Linked DNA regions of Homo sapiens. The protein of the gene in region 1 binds, or shares a complex with, the protein of each later gene. Each region holds a gene or a part of one and is shown in the gene's direction. Other genes may lie near its edges.

Region 1 (3,500 bases):
GTTAGCCAAGCGGTCTCGATCTCCTGACCTCATGATCCGCCTGCCTGGGCCTCCCTAAGTGCTGGGATTACAGGCGTGAGCCACGGTGCCTGGCCCAAAATCTTTTATCTACTGTGTTTTCTCTGCTTTTCTTTGTTCCTCTGGGTAGTTATCATTTTTGTTCCTTTTCTATCATAAATACTATTTCAGAAGAAATTGAAGGTAAGTGTGGTCAATTTGGCCCATTTTAACGTGTTCTAGACTTACAGTTTTTGTGTGTACACATTTAAAATAGTACGGTTTAAAATAACTGAAATTGGCCAGGTGCGGTGGCTCATGCCTGTAATCCCAGTACTTTGGGAGGCAGAGGCGGGCAGATCGCCTGAACTCGGAAGTTCGAGACCAGCCCGGGCAACATGGCATGAACTTTGTCTCTACTAAAAATACAAAAATTAACCAGGCATGGTGGCAGATGCCTGTAATCCCAGCTACTCGGGTGGCTGAGGCAGGAGAATTTCTTGAACCCAGAAAATGGAGGCTCCGGTGAGCCGAGATTACGCCACTGCACTCCAGCCTGGGTGACAGAGTAAAACCCTGTCGCCAAAAAAAAAAAAAAAAAAAAAGGAAACTACAACAAATTAAATAATGAAAATGAGTCTTCGTTTCAAGTTTGTCATAGTCTAGTGTTAGGGAGTTATTTAAAAATTATTGGTTTGGGCCAGGTGTGGTGGCTCACGCCTGTAATCCCAGCACTTTCAGAGGCTGAGGCAGCTGGATCACAAGGTCAGGAGTTCAACACCAGCCTGGCCAATGGTGAAACCCCATTTCTACTGAAAATACAAAAATTAGCCAGGTGTGGTGGCGGTCACCTATAATCCCAGCTACTCGGGAGGCTAAGGCAGGGAATTGCTCGAACCTGGGAGGCAGAGGTTGTAGTGACCCGAGATCGCACTACTGCACTCCAGCCTGGACAACAGAGAGAGACTTGGTCTCAAAAAAAAAAAAAAAATTGTTTTGTTTGTTGTTTGTTTGGTAAGAGACAAGATCTCACTGTGTTGCTCAGGCTGCAGTGAAGTGGCATGATCATAGCTCACTGCAGCCTCAAACCCCTGGCTTCAGGCTGTCTTCTGCGTTGGCCTCCCAAATGTTTGGATTTTTTTTTTTTTTGAATAAACATTTATTTTCTTTCTTTAAAAAAAAAAAAAAGAAGCAGCAGCTGGGCGCGGTGGCTCACGCCTGTAACCCCAGCACTTTGGAAGGCCGAGGCAGGTGGATCACCAGCCTGGCCAACAGAGTAAAACCCCATCTCTACTAAAAATACAAAAAAGTAGCTGGGCGTGGTGGTGGGCGCCTGCAGTCCCAGCTACTCGGGAGGCTGAGGCAGGAGAATCGCTTGAACCCGAGAGGCGGAGATTGCAGTGAGCAGTTGTTTTCTTAATTTATCTTTCTTTTTTACAGATATGCACCACCAAACCTGGCTAATTTTTTATTTTTTATTTTTTTGTAAAGACAGGGTCTCCCTATGTTGTCCAGGATAGTCTTGAACTCTTGGTCTCAAACAATCCTCCTGCTGTGGCCTCCCAAAGTGCTGGGATTATAGGTGTGAGCCACCATCATACCTGGTCCATTTTCTTTTCTTGGGTTTTTTTTTTTTTTTTTTTTTTTGAGACAGAGTCATGCTCTGTTGCCCAGGCTGGAGTGCCATGGCGCGATCTCCACTCATTACAACCTCTGCCTCCCAGGTTCAAGCAGTTCTCCTGCCTCAACCTCCCAAGTAGCTGGGATTACAGGTGCCCAGCCCTTTTGTTGTTGTTGTTGTTGTTGTTTTACAACACCCCTCCAACTCTGTTTTTCCCATTTTCTTTATTTTTTTAAACACTTCATTTTGAAATAATTTTAGACACAAAAAGTTGCAAAAATAGTACAAGGAATTCCCATACACTTTTCACCAAGATTGTCTAAATGTTAAAATGTCATATAACTACAAAAAATTAGAAATTTTACATTGATGTGTCACTACTGTATTATCTAGAGACCTTTCTCACATTTCTCTGATTGTCCCTTTAATGTCCTTTTCCTGGTCCAAGATCCAATCCAGTACAACAGGTTGCATTTACTTGTACGTTTCCTTAGTTTCCTTTAATGCGTATCAGCTGGTTCTCCTCAGTTTTCCTTTTGTGACCTTGATACTTTGTAAGAGTACGGGCCAGTTATTTTGTGAAATGTCCCTTAATTAGCATCTTAAACTTACTATTTATTGCTTAGAATGGTAAGACTAGAATCAGTGTGTACAAATTTCTAATGTGGCCAGGTGCGGTGGCTCACACCTGTAATCCCACCACTTTGGGAGGCTGAGGCTGGAGGATTGCTTTGGCCCAAGAGTTTGAGAGCAGCTTGGGCAACAAAGGGAGACCTCATCTCTACAAAAATTTTAAAAATTAGCCAGACATGATGGTTTGTACCTGTAGTCCCAGCTACTCAGGAGGCTTAGATGGGAGGATCACTTGAGCCCAGGAGTTCAAGGCTGCAGTGAGGTGTAATTACACTCCAGATGGGACTACAGAGTGAGACCCTGTATTTAAAAAACAAAAACAAAAACATTTAGAATGTGACTGACTTCTATGTCAAGATTTTCTAATATTCTTAGCTGTCTGAAGATGAAATAAGTTTATTTGGGTCATGAATTCCCTATCACCATGATACTCAACTAGAGTTAGGATGACCCAGTAGGGATATTACTATTTGGATTAAAGCACTAGATTATGTGTAGGTCAAATGAGTTTTAATTTTCTGAAGAGTTAATAAGATTGTGATTTGATGTAATACATTTAAACTTTCCTGGTTTTGAATTAACTTGCTTGGATTTTATTCAGTTACCAAAACTCTGGCATCAAGGTGATCATGTTTTATTCTGTGATATATATCTTCCCTTTTTTTGTGAGGTTCAAATCATTTTATGGTGAATTTGAGACATGATATAAAGAAAAAGTATTTTTAAATTTGACACATTTCTTAGTAAATAAATTGAAATGAAACAAATAATAATCTCCCTAGGCCTTTAGTTATTGGTTCTGCATGATAATGTGTTGGGGGGTGGAGGGAATCTGAAGTCTAACACATTTAACAGAAGCTAGTTAAACTTTATTTACTGTAGCTACTAATAAAGAGCTATAAACAGGGAAAGGTGTGTGTGTAAATGTTGTTTGTGGTGTCTAGGTAACATTGGTGCAGGAGAGAATTGAACTTGGTTTGTTTTTCTTTTCCTTCAGTTGCAGGAAGAGGCAGAGGAAGAGGAAGAGGAAGAGGACGTGGCCGTGGCAGAGGAAGAGGGGGTCCTAGGCGATAATGTCTCTCAAGATTTCAAAGTCATATGAGATTTGGGATATTTTTTGTACAGGTTGTGTTTGTTTATGTCAGTTTTTAATAAACATAAATGTGGGACAGAGCTGTCTATTTAGTATATCAAAGTTTTAGTAGTTTCCTCCACATTCACGAAATTACCACAGTGAGAGCTAAGCATT
Region 2 (3,372 bases), on another chromosome or scaffold:
AGATGTTTCATTAACTGTTAGCAGTTATTTCGAGTTATTTATATATCACAGAATTTTGAACTAAAGATCATCTAGCTGAATTTCCTTTATATTAAAGAAGAGGAGAAAATCTTAATACTAAGTATGTGTGAGCCTGGAGCTGCCATGGAGCATGTAGAGAGAGTCTCCTAGTTGATACCAACTCAGGAAAGCAGAATCAAGCAATAAAGAGACATTTTGGGCCTGATGACATCATTTCAGCACCTGGATCCAGCGATGCCTAAAGATGTGACTCCTAGACTTTTCACTTACATGAGCCAAAACGGTTCCTTTGCATCAATAAATCGCTCTGTGATGCATTTTATAATGTACAACCAAGAATCTCAATATTTATTATTTTGCATTAAATATCAGTAAGTTTGATATAAAAAGCTCAGTAAAATTCATTAATTTGAGAATGTGTCTATATCATAGTAAAGTTTTAAACCTACATAATTTTCAATATTTATACCTTTTACTGCAAAAATAAAAATGAGTTTATCCTTGCCCTAAAGCTGTAAAATTAAACTCTGTACAATTCTAGTTATTTGAAATATAAAATAAAATTATTGGTCATTTCATGTATACATTTGTGGTAACACTTTAACTTTTTCCCTGTAAGGCCATCTTTTGTATGTTTCTGTTTCCATCAAGCAGGCTTTTAATGCAACTTTATCTTCTGGGTTTCCCTAGTCATAATTAAGGGTTTGGCCCTAGTTCACAAGTAATCTTCCAGCACAAATTTTATAAACAAATGCCCTGTGAATCTGCATGGCATAAATCAAGTCTCTAGATCCTGATCACTTCTATGTGAATTTGTAATATTCTGCTTTTGGACTTGTAAGACCAAGAGCAGACTCCCTAAACACAGAGGAGGCAGTAATTTAGGACAGCTTAAACATTCTGGCTGACTGCCTCATCAATGCTATTTAATAACAGAATTCTGGGGATGTCTTGAAATAGATACATTGGCAGTTTTTTTGTTTTTGTTTTTGCTTGTGTCACACATAATGCTGATGAAGAAACCATGAAGTGTCATATGAAAGGAAGTTACGATTATTATTGGTGAGTACATCAGTTAGAATGGTATTTGGCTATAAGCACTGGAAACTCTGACTGCCAGTGGCTTTAACAGGCAGGAGGAGTTCATTTATCTCGAGAGAAAAGAACAGAAAAGTGAAAAGCAAGGCAGTTCAGACTGGGGCACCTACTCAAAGAAGTGACCCAGTACCCAGGCCACTATTTTCTCTTTGCCATCCTTTTGTTCTAATAATTTGCCTGTCATCTCGTGACTCATATTTTCCATCTAATTAGAATAAAGAAAGATGAAATAGGAAAGTGAGATTATCATATGGGAAAAATAAATGCTTTCCCAACTATAACCAGCAGACTATACTGGCAAAATATACTGCTTGAATGCCATTGGCCAGATCTTTGTCATATGGTTACCCTAACTACAAGGGAGGCTAGGAAGGTGAGGGATTTTTTTCCTTTTATAGTGACATTTTGCCACTCCAAATAAAAAAAGGGTTGCTGTTAGGAAAAAGAGAAGAATGGGGATGGGGTGAACAACCAACAATGCTGCCATTGTGCTAGTATAGAAGCAAGTATCTCAGAGGCAGGTGAAAACAACTTCTATGCCCAAACAGAATTCTTTTTTATCTCTGATATAAAATGCAGAATATGAATTTTAATAAATTCCCCAGGTGAGTCATATGCACATTAAAGTTTGAGAAGCACTGATCTATACTGTCTTTCTACACACTTTTTTACCTTACTTTATCCTTCAGGATTCTGGCGTCAAGTCCCTCCCTATCAGTCTTTAAAAACTGTAGCCTTAAATCAGTAGGGATATAGAAGACATGAACAATACTTTCATCCATCTTGACCTAACTGCCATTTATAGAACGTTCTATCCCAAGACATCAGAATATATATTCTTTTTAAACATTTAATGAAAGGATTTAACTCCCAAACTCCAAAGCAAGATGTTCTAAGAAGACTCATTTAAAAAATTAATCTCAAAAAACAGATTTTAAATTGTACAGGAGAAATGCTTATATGAGAACAGAATTATGGGGCACTCTGAATACTAATTTAAGAAAGAAATATAAACCCCTTTTAAAACTCACATAATTTTCCCATTTCCCTTGAAGAAGATACTAATATTTCTGATATCATATAGGAGTAAAAATTGCGGGGAGGTCCTAATATCCAATATTAATAGAGCTGTGATTATTCAAGCTGTAGACTTAAATTTTTTAAATAGAGTAATGGTTGTTTAGTAGAGATTAATATCTAAATAAGGAAAATGAAGAAAGGGACTAAAAATCAAGTAAATAGGATAATTGAGTTTCAATGGGCAAGAATTTTTATATCATGATTTTACCACTCTGAATATCAAAGTCAGTGATGTCTCCAAAAGGCAAAGGGAAGTGTACCAATTTTTGGAGCACTATAAAAAGTGAAAAGTCATCTGCCAGATCTAACATGGTATACTCTAATGGAAAAATCATCAAGATTCTCTTCCTTTTTATGATTCTATAGTAACAGTTTAGTTGAGAAAATAAATCATAATTTGTGATTTCAAACATTTAATATGTGCACATGTATATTATAATATACTCATCCTTTATATTTATCATGCTTTTTTGAATAAATTTGCCACCTTATTGCATATGAAGAATATCTCCATATTCTTACAGCTGTTTTTCTTGGTTGCTTTCTAATTCCTTTCCTCCCTTATTGGTTACCTATGAATTGCTCAGTTCTAACAATGATTTGTAAATTTTAATACTATAGATATATTGCTGTTAATTATTACACCTAAAAATAAATTATTTTACAGAGGCTACTAAGAATGTCCATGTTTTTTTCTGAGATTCTTGCCATATTTTAAGGGTGATATGTAATTATGGGGATAACGGATGGTATGTAAAAATAGCAAGGACACACTTTTTTAAAAAAGAAAAGTTTACATTTGAAGGAAGCCCTGGACTTTGATGATTTAAGAAGAATTTTAATTATTGTCCTCAAGCAAGATTCAATTTTCTGGTTTGATGGGGCTATATTTTTCATTTACTACAGTAAAAAATAAAGCATATGAAACTATAAACAAGACACCTGCATGTGTATGCTTATCATTGCACGATTCACAGTAGCAAAGTCATAGAACCAACCTAAGTGTCCATGAGTGGTTGATTTGATAAAGGAAATATTTCATATATACATATACATATACACACACATACACACATATGTAACATTTTTGTATATATACACAATAACATTTACTGTTTACACATTGTATATAGTGTATATATAGAGTGTATATATAATGTGTGTGTATATATA
Region 3 (3,500 bases), on another chromosome or scaffold:
TACTTCTCATATATCCTGTTTTCAGCTTTCTGCCTGCCTCTGGGGTAGTATAGAGAAAGGAAGGTCATTTAGGAGAGGAGAAACTCCAAAAAGTGGGGAGACATACTTTTTTTTTTTTTTTGAGATGGAGTCTCACTCTGTTGCCTAGGCTGGAGTGCAGTGGTGTGATCTCAGCTCACTGCAACCTCCACCTCCCGGGTTCAAGCGATTCTTCTGCCTCAGCCTCCCGAGTAGCTGGGACTACAGGTACATGCCACCATGCCCAGCTAATGTTTGTATTTTTAGTAGAGATGCGGTTTCACCCTGTTGGCCAGGCTGGTCTCGATCTCCTGGCCTCAAGTGATCTGCCTGCCTCAGCCTCTCAAAGTGTTGGGATTACAGGCATGAGCCACCGTGCCTGGTTAGTTTTCTTTCTTTACATATATATATATATATTTTTTTTTTCTTTTTTTTTCTTTTTCCTTTTTAGTAGAGATGGGGTTTCACCATGTTGTCAAGGCTGGTCTCGAACTCCTGTGCTGAAATGATCCCCCTGCCTCGGCCTCCTACAGTGATAGGATTATAGGTGTGAGCCACCAGGCCCGGCCTTTTTTTTTTTTTTTTTTTTTAAATCAGCCTTAGCCAAACTGCACATCCTAAGCCTCATACATAATTTCTCGGACCAGGAGTCTTGTGAACTTAAGTGTGAGGCAAAATTATATTTTAAAAAATCGAAATGAAAAACTCATGCCCCTGCTCTAATACTACTGAACTTCAGCACTAATTTGAGAATTTTCTTTTCTTTCTCTAGGAATATAAGACTTACAAGGAGAACTTTCTGAAGCGCTTCCAGCTTACCAAGTTGCCTCCATATCTAATCTTTTGTATCAAGAGATTCACTAAGAACAACTTCTTTGTTGAGAAGAATCCAACTATTGTCAATTTCCCTATTACGTAAGTAACATCCTGCCTCACTTCTCTCACGGGGAGTGAACCTGGATTTCTTCTCTTGTATTTTTACCAGTATTAATTTTGGACTGTCTTAGTTGGGGATTACAAGGAACAGAGCCTACCTACAGTAGATAAGAGTTTTTATTGGAAGGATACACTTATTTCAGGGACCACAAAAGATTGATGTTTATTGGGATGCAATCCCTATTTTATCTTCTCTCCTGTTGCTAGCTGGAAATTATAGTCTTCCTGCGTAGAGAAGAAGAAATGATGCAAGTAGGATAAGACAGGTAGGATTCTGCCTGGTTTGGAAGATGTCCTGAGTAGTGAGGGTCTGCCCATCTATTTGCTGGCCATCACACCTTTTTGCACACTAGAGTTGTACTAGATGCTTTTAGTTTGCTTCCTTCCAACTCAGAAAACTTCTGCAAGATCCTTTTTGGGGGTAGACTGTTGGTTTTCAGTTCTCAAGAGACAAGGTTTTTCATACTTAAGAAGATGTTTGGCTGGGCGTGGTGGCTCACGCCTGTAATCCCAGCACTTTGGGAGGCCAAGGCAGCTGGATCGCTTGAGCTCAGGAGTTCAAGACCAGCCTAGGCAACATGGCAAAACCCCATCTCTACAAAAAAATACAAAAAATTAGCCAGATGTGGTGGTGCACACCTGCAGTCCTAGGTACTTGAGGGGCTGAGGCAGGAGGATGGCTAGAACCTTGGAGATTGAGGCTGCAGTGAGCTGAGATGGTGTCACTGCCCTCCAGCCTGGGTCTGGGTGACAGAGTGTGACTGTGCTAAAAAAAAAAAAAAAAAAAAAAGAAAGAAAGAAAGAAAATAGTGTCAGTTTTAAATTCCATGTAGTGTTTAAGAAAGTAGTATCTAAAATTAAGAGGCCTGAGTTTTAGGCTGTCTTAGTGGTGGGACCTCAGACCCATAGTTTGCGTGTTTTCTGGATATGTTCTCTCATAGATAAAATGAGAGGCTTGGAGTAGATGGGCCTGAGCCCTAGGGGTTTGTCCAGGTGTAACATCTTATTATAGTATTGCCAGGACTCTTAGAATCATGGAGGGTGAGGAGAGAGAACATTTGCAGTTGAGAATTACAGGGGAATTTCTTTTTCTCTTTTTCTACACTTTTCTCCACTAGCATCTTGTTTGTGACTAGAATTAAATGGGGGGACATGGAGGTTTGTTCTCTGCCTCCTTGAGTAGGATGACAGAGGTGCTTTCTTCGAAAGTCTGTGTGTCAAAGTTTTATTTCAGCACTAGCCTCTTGTGAATTGCCAGTCACCTGTCTGTTCCTGGTAGGTAGGGGCAGTCTGGATTCCAAGGGCAACTCCAGAGGGAGGAAGATTGTGTATCAATGGTACTTCCTGCTCAGTTGCCACAGAAATTTCCTTGCCCCATTGGTTTCTTTTATGGGCCTAGAGTAGGCCCAATATAAAAGTTTGTCCTTCAGAAAGCTTACTTCGGAGAAGTTGAGAAAAAGATTGTTTCTTAACTACGCAGTCTTTTAGAGAACATCAAATTGTGACTAATTCTGGAAACTTGCACTTTAATTATTTTATGTGCTGTAATTACTTCGAGTAATACAATTCTGGATCATTTCATTGTCCATACTTCTTGAAAAGGATCTTTTTCATACCTGTCTTCTCCTATGTTTTATTCATAACACATCCTGTTTTTGTCGGAGAGTTATCAGACTTATGGTGATTAGGCACCCTCTGCTTATTTGGAGATAGAGATTTTTGAGGGCAGGTTTAAAGTTTCACTTTCAGGTAATTAGCCATTCTCTTAACTGGTCTGTTGCTGTGGTTGGGAGATGAGTATAGTTTGCTCTTTTAGGCTGGGCGCAGTGGCTCACATCTGTAATGTCATCACTTTGGGAGGCCGAGGTGGGAGAATTGCTTGAGCTCAGGAGTTTGAGACCTGCCTGGACAACATAGCAAGACCTTGTCTCTACTAAAAAAAAAAAAAAAATGAATAGTTTGCTCCTTTTCCTATTTACTAACACAAAATGATTAAACGTAGTATTTCTCTTTTGCCGCATGGACAGTTTTGGTTCAGTCATGAAATCTTGAGTATAAAGACTTCTCCAAACCAGGCACGGTGGCTCACACCTGTAATCCCAGCCCTTTGGGAGGCCAAGGCGGGCGGATCACGAGGTCAGGAGATCGAGACCATCCTGGCTAACACGGTGAAACCCCGTCTCTACTAAAAATTCAAAAAATTAGCCAGGCATGGTGGTGGGCGCCTGTAGTCCCAGCTACTCGGGAGGCTGAGACAGGAGAATGGCGTGAACCCAGGAAGCAGAGCTTGCAGTGAATTGAGATAGCTAGCGCCATTGCACTCCAGTCTGGGCGACAGAGCGAGACTCTGTCTCAAAAAAAAAAAAGACTTCTTCACTGATACTCATTCAGACAAGTCTAGTCAGCTTTTGTTCAGGCTGAAGAGAAAATAAAATGAGAAGTCAGCCTTTAGTAGCAGGAAGGCAGGTTGGCTGACTAGAGCTCACATGGACTCAGGACTCATATCTCCTTTTTTTTTTTTTTTTGGAGATGGAGTCTCGCTCTGT
Region 4 (3,500 bases), on another chromosome or scaffold:
CCTCCCGGGTTCAGATGATTCTCCTGCCTCAGCCTCCTGAGTAGCTGGGATTACAGGCACCCGCCATCATGCCTGGCTAATTTTTTTTTTTTAATTTTTGTAGAAATGGGGTTTCACCATGTTGGCCAGGCTGGTCTTGAACTCATGACCTCAGGTGATCCACCCACCTTGGCCTCCCAAAGTGCTGGGATTACAGGCGTGAGCCATTGTGCCAGGCCAAGCTTCTCAAATTTATTTTTCCAGCTTAGGGTAGATTTGTAGGGGGGTTAGTTGAGAACAGAAAAGAGGTGACAGTTTCCAAAGAGCTGTTTAAAATAGTTTTCTTTGCTGATGCCTATACACCAACTTGTCTCTTTATGGAGGGTCCATCAGCCTAGAAATGAGATGGATCACAGAGAGAGGACTTCTCGACATCAGTGTTAGAGTAATGATGAGACTTAGCTGTGGTTCATTTTGTTGGAATCTTTCTTAAAAACAATGCTGAGGTTCAGTTATAGGGAACTTTTTATTTGCTCCTTTTTTCAGTGCTTTAACTAAGCTTTCAAATTGTATATTCTTGCCTAAGTACTGGAGATATGTAGATTAATAGAACATAGCTGTATTTTAGAGATTATACCCTAGAATGAAAAACTGAATTTCAGATAAATTTCAACAGTATGGTAAATGTTGGGGATGTTTCACATACGTACCAAGTACCATTAGAGCCCGGGGAGGTAGCATACTTTGTATTCTGTTGGGAGATATCCTGAAAGATGTAAATACTGAGTTTTGAAGGGTAAGTAAGAGCCAGGTGGACAAAATCATAGGCAAATGACCTCCCAGTGGTTCATGAAACCATTGCTGAGAATTTCTGAGAAACAAAGTGGAAAGGAGAGCTGTAGATAGGCTGAATTCCACTAAAGTTGGTAAAGATGGATTCCAGTGAGTATTTAATATTAATTCCCAGCAAAATTCTTTTTTTTTTTTTTTTTTTGAGACGGAGTCTCACCGTGTTGCCCAGGCTTGAGTGTAGTGGTATGATCTCGGCTCACTGCAAGCTCTGCCTCCTGGGTTCACACCATTCTCCTGCCTCAGCCTCCTGAGTAGCTGGGACTACAGGGGCCCACCAACACGCCCGGCTAATTTTTTGTGTTTTTTTTTGTATTTTTAGTAGAGACAGGGTTTCATCATGTTAGCCAGGTTGGTCTTGATCTCCTGACCTCGTGATCCGCCCACCTCGGCCTCCTGAAGGGCTGGGATTACATGTGTGAGCCACTGCACCTGGCCAATTCCCAGCAAAATTCTAAAATAGATTATTTAAAAGAGGGCTTGCTAGTAATTAGAAGGGAAATAGTGATCTTAGGGAGCCAATTTAGTTTTGGTCAGAAGAAGTAAATATTAACAATGTTTGTTGTTTTTTTTTAATTTTATAAAAGCAATGCATATTTATTACAGAATATTTGGGAATTAAAAAAAGTTTAAAGTTTTTAAAAGAATAAACACTTGCATGTTACCATCCAAAGATAACTGCTAATACTTGGATGCATATCTCTTCAGGTTTTTCTCTTTAGAGATTATACACGCTTGTATTTTATTTTTTTGAACATAATTGGGATCATATTGTACATAGGGTTTTGGAGTCTACTCCTCTGCTAAATAATATGTTGTGGATACTCTGGTAAGACCTTAAAATATTCTTTGAGTGTATGATTTTTAACGGTTATGTAGTAGTTCAATATATATATTTTATCTGTTCTGTTACTGGATACATGGATTGTTTCCACTTATAAAATATCATACATCGTTGTACATAAATCATTTGTAGAAATCAGTTTATTTCTTTATTCCCATAAAATGAAATGAGTGGATCAAAGGGTATGGTTCGCTTTAGTTATATTCCCATGTTGCTTTCCAAAAGGTGCTACCAATTTACACTCCCACTAGAGGTGATGAGAATGCCAGTTTGCCTACGTCGTCAATATTAGAGCACTATTATTATTATTATTATTATTATTATTATTATTATTATTATTTTTGAGACAGGGTCTTGCTCTGTTGCCCAGGCTGAAATACAGTGGTGTGATCATGCCCCATTGTAGCCTCTACCTTCCAGGTGCAAGCAATCCTCCTACCTTAGTCCTGCACGTAGCTGGTACCACAGGTGCGCACCTCCATGCCTGGCTAATTTTGGGTATTTTTTGTAGAGATGAGGTCTCTGTGTTGCCCAGTCTGGTCTTGACCTCCTGGGCTCAAGTGATCCTCCTGCCTAGGCCTCCTAAAGTGTTGGGATTACAGGTGTTAGCCACATGCCCCACCAATATTGAAGGATTATTAACAAAACAAAACCAATAGCAAACCTATGCTGATTTAGCAAGTGAGTAATGGTATCCAGTTTCTTTTTTTTTTTTTTTTTTTTTTGGTGGAGTCTCACTCTGTTGCCCAGGCTGGAGTGCAGTGGCGTGATCTCGGATCACTGCAAGCTCCGCCTCCCGGGTTCACGCCATTCTCCTGCCTCAGCCTCCCGAGTAGCTGGGACTACAGGCACCTGCCACCATGCCTGGCTAATTTTTTGTATTTTTAGTAGAGATGAAGTTTCACTGTGTTAGCCAGGATGATCTTGATCTCCTAACTTCATGATCTGCCTGCCTCGGCCTCCCAAAGTGCTGGGATTACAGACGTGAGCCACCGTGCCTGGCCCAGTTTCTTTGAACACTAGTGAAATGAATCATTTTTTATATGTTCATTAGGCTTATGTTGTGGGTGTATTTTATCATTTGCCTTTTCACTTAGTTCATAATTGTTTTTATTATTTTTTTTTTTTGAGACATATTCTCACACTGTCACCAACGCTGGAGTGCAGTGGCTCAATCTTGGCTCACTGCAGCCTCTGCCTCCCAGGTTCAAGTGAACCTCCTGCCTCAGCCTCCCAAATAGCTGGGATTACAGGCGCCTGCCACCATGCCCAGCTAATTTTTGTGTTTTTGGTAGAGACGGGGTTTCACCGTGTTGCCTAGGCTGGTCATGAACTCCTGGGCTCAAGCAATCCACCCGCCTCAGCCTCCCAAAGTGCTAGGATTACAGGAATGAGCCACCGCACCTGGCCATTTTCTTTTATAATATTGTCTTGCTTTTATGATGGCCCAAAAACCTAAACAAAGGAGGCTTTAGTGCCACTGCTCTCTGCATTGGTTAAAACAGATCTTGATTACTGAATTCATTTTTGTAACTGCAAGATCACCACCACCACCAGTAATAATGGTAAAACGATTATGATGATTACGATAGCAGTGGCAGCACAGGAATAATTAATAGGTGTCATTTATTGGGCATTTATCATGTACCAAGCATGGCTAAGCTTACGTGAATTATCTCATTCAATCCTTATAGCAATCCTTTGAATCCCACTTTTACAAATGAGGAAATTGAGGCTTAGAATAATTTACCAAAGGTTACACAAATGCTAAGTGGCCGAGCTGGGGTTTAGATCTTAATTCATCTTGCCCGAAACCTGTGCTTTTAAC

Evidence for each region.
Region 2: SNRPD1 (region 1) and LSM8 share a complex: the UniProt entries of both Homo sapiens proteins name them as parts of the U4/U6-U5 tri-snRNP complex.
Region 3: SNRPD1 (region 1) and USP39 share a complex: the UniProt entries of both Homo sapiens proteins name them as parts of the U4/U6-U5 tri-snRNP complex.
Region 4: SNRPD1 (region 1) and BUD13 share a complex: the UniProt entries of both Homo sapiens proteins name them as parts of the minor spliceosome.

What each region holds. Positions count from the first base shown.
Region 1 is NC_000018.10:21,625,814-21,629,313, forward strand, and holds part of SNRPD1 (small nuclear ribonucleoprotein Sm D1), read left to right. Parts: intron 1-3,248; coding exon 3,249-3,325; 3' UTR 3,326-3,500. UniProt on the Homo sapiens protein: Plays a role in pre-mRNA splicing as a core component of the spliceosomal U1, U2, U4 and U5 small nuclear ribonucleoproteins (snRNPs), the building blocks of the spliceosome.
Region 2 is NC_000007.14:118,201,164-118,204,535, forward strand, and holds the end of LSM8 (LSM8 homolog, U6 small nuclear RNA associated), read left to right. Parts: 3' UTR 1-2,872; downstream 2,873-3,372. UniProt on the Homo sapiens protein: Plays a role in pre-mRNA splicing as component of the U4/U6-U5 tri-snRNP complex that is involved in spliceosome assembly, and as component of the precatalytic spliceosome (spliceosome B complex).
Region 3 is NC_000002.12:85,640,186-85,643,685, forward strand, and holds part of USP39 (ubiquitin carboxyl-terminal hydrolase 39), read left to right. Parts: intron 1-790; coding exon 791-933; intron 934-3,500.
Region 4 is NC_000011.10:116,766,488-116,769,987, reverse strand, and holds part of BUD13 (BUD13 homolog), read left to right. Parts: intron 1-3,500. UniProt on the Homo sapiens protein: Involved in pre-mRNA splicing as component of the activated spliceosome. As a component of the minor spliceosome, involved in the splicing of U12-type introns in pre-mRNAs.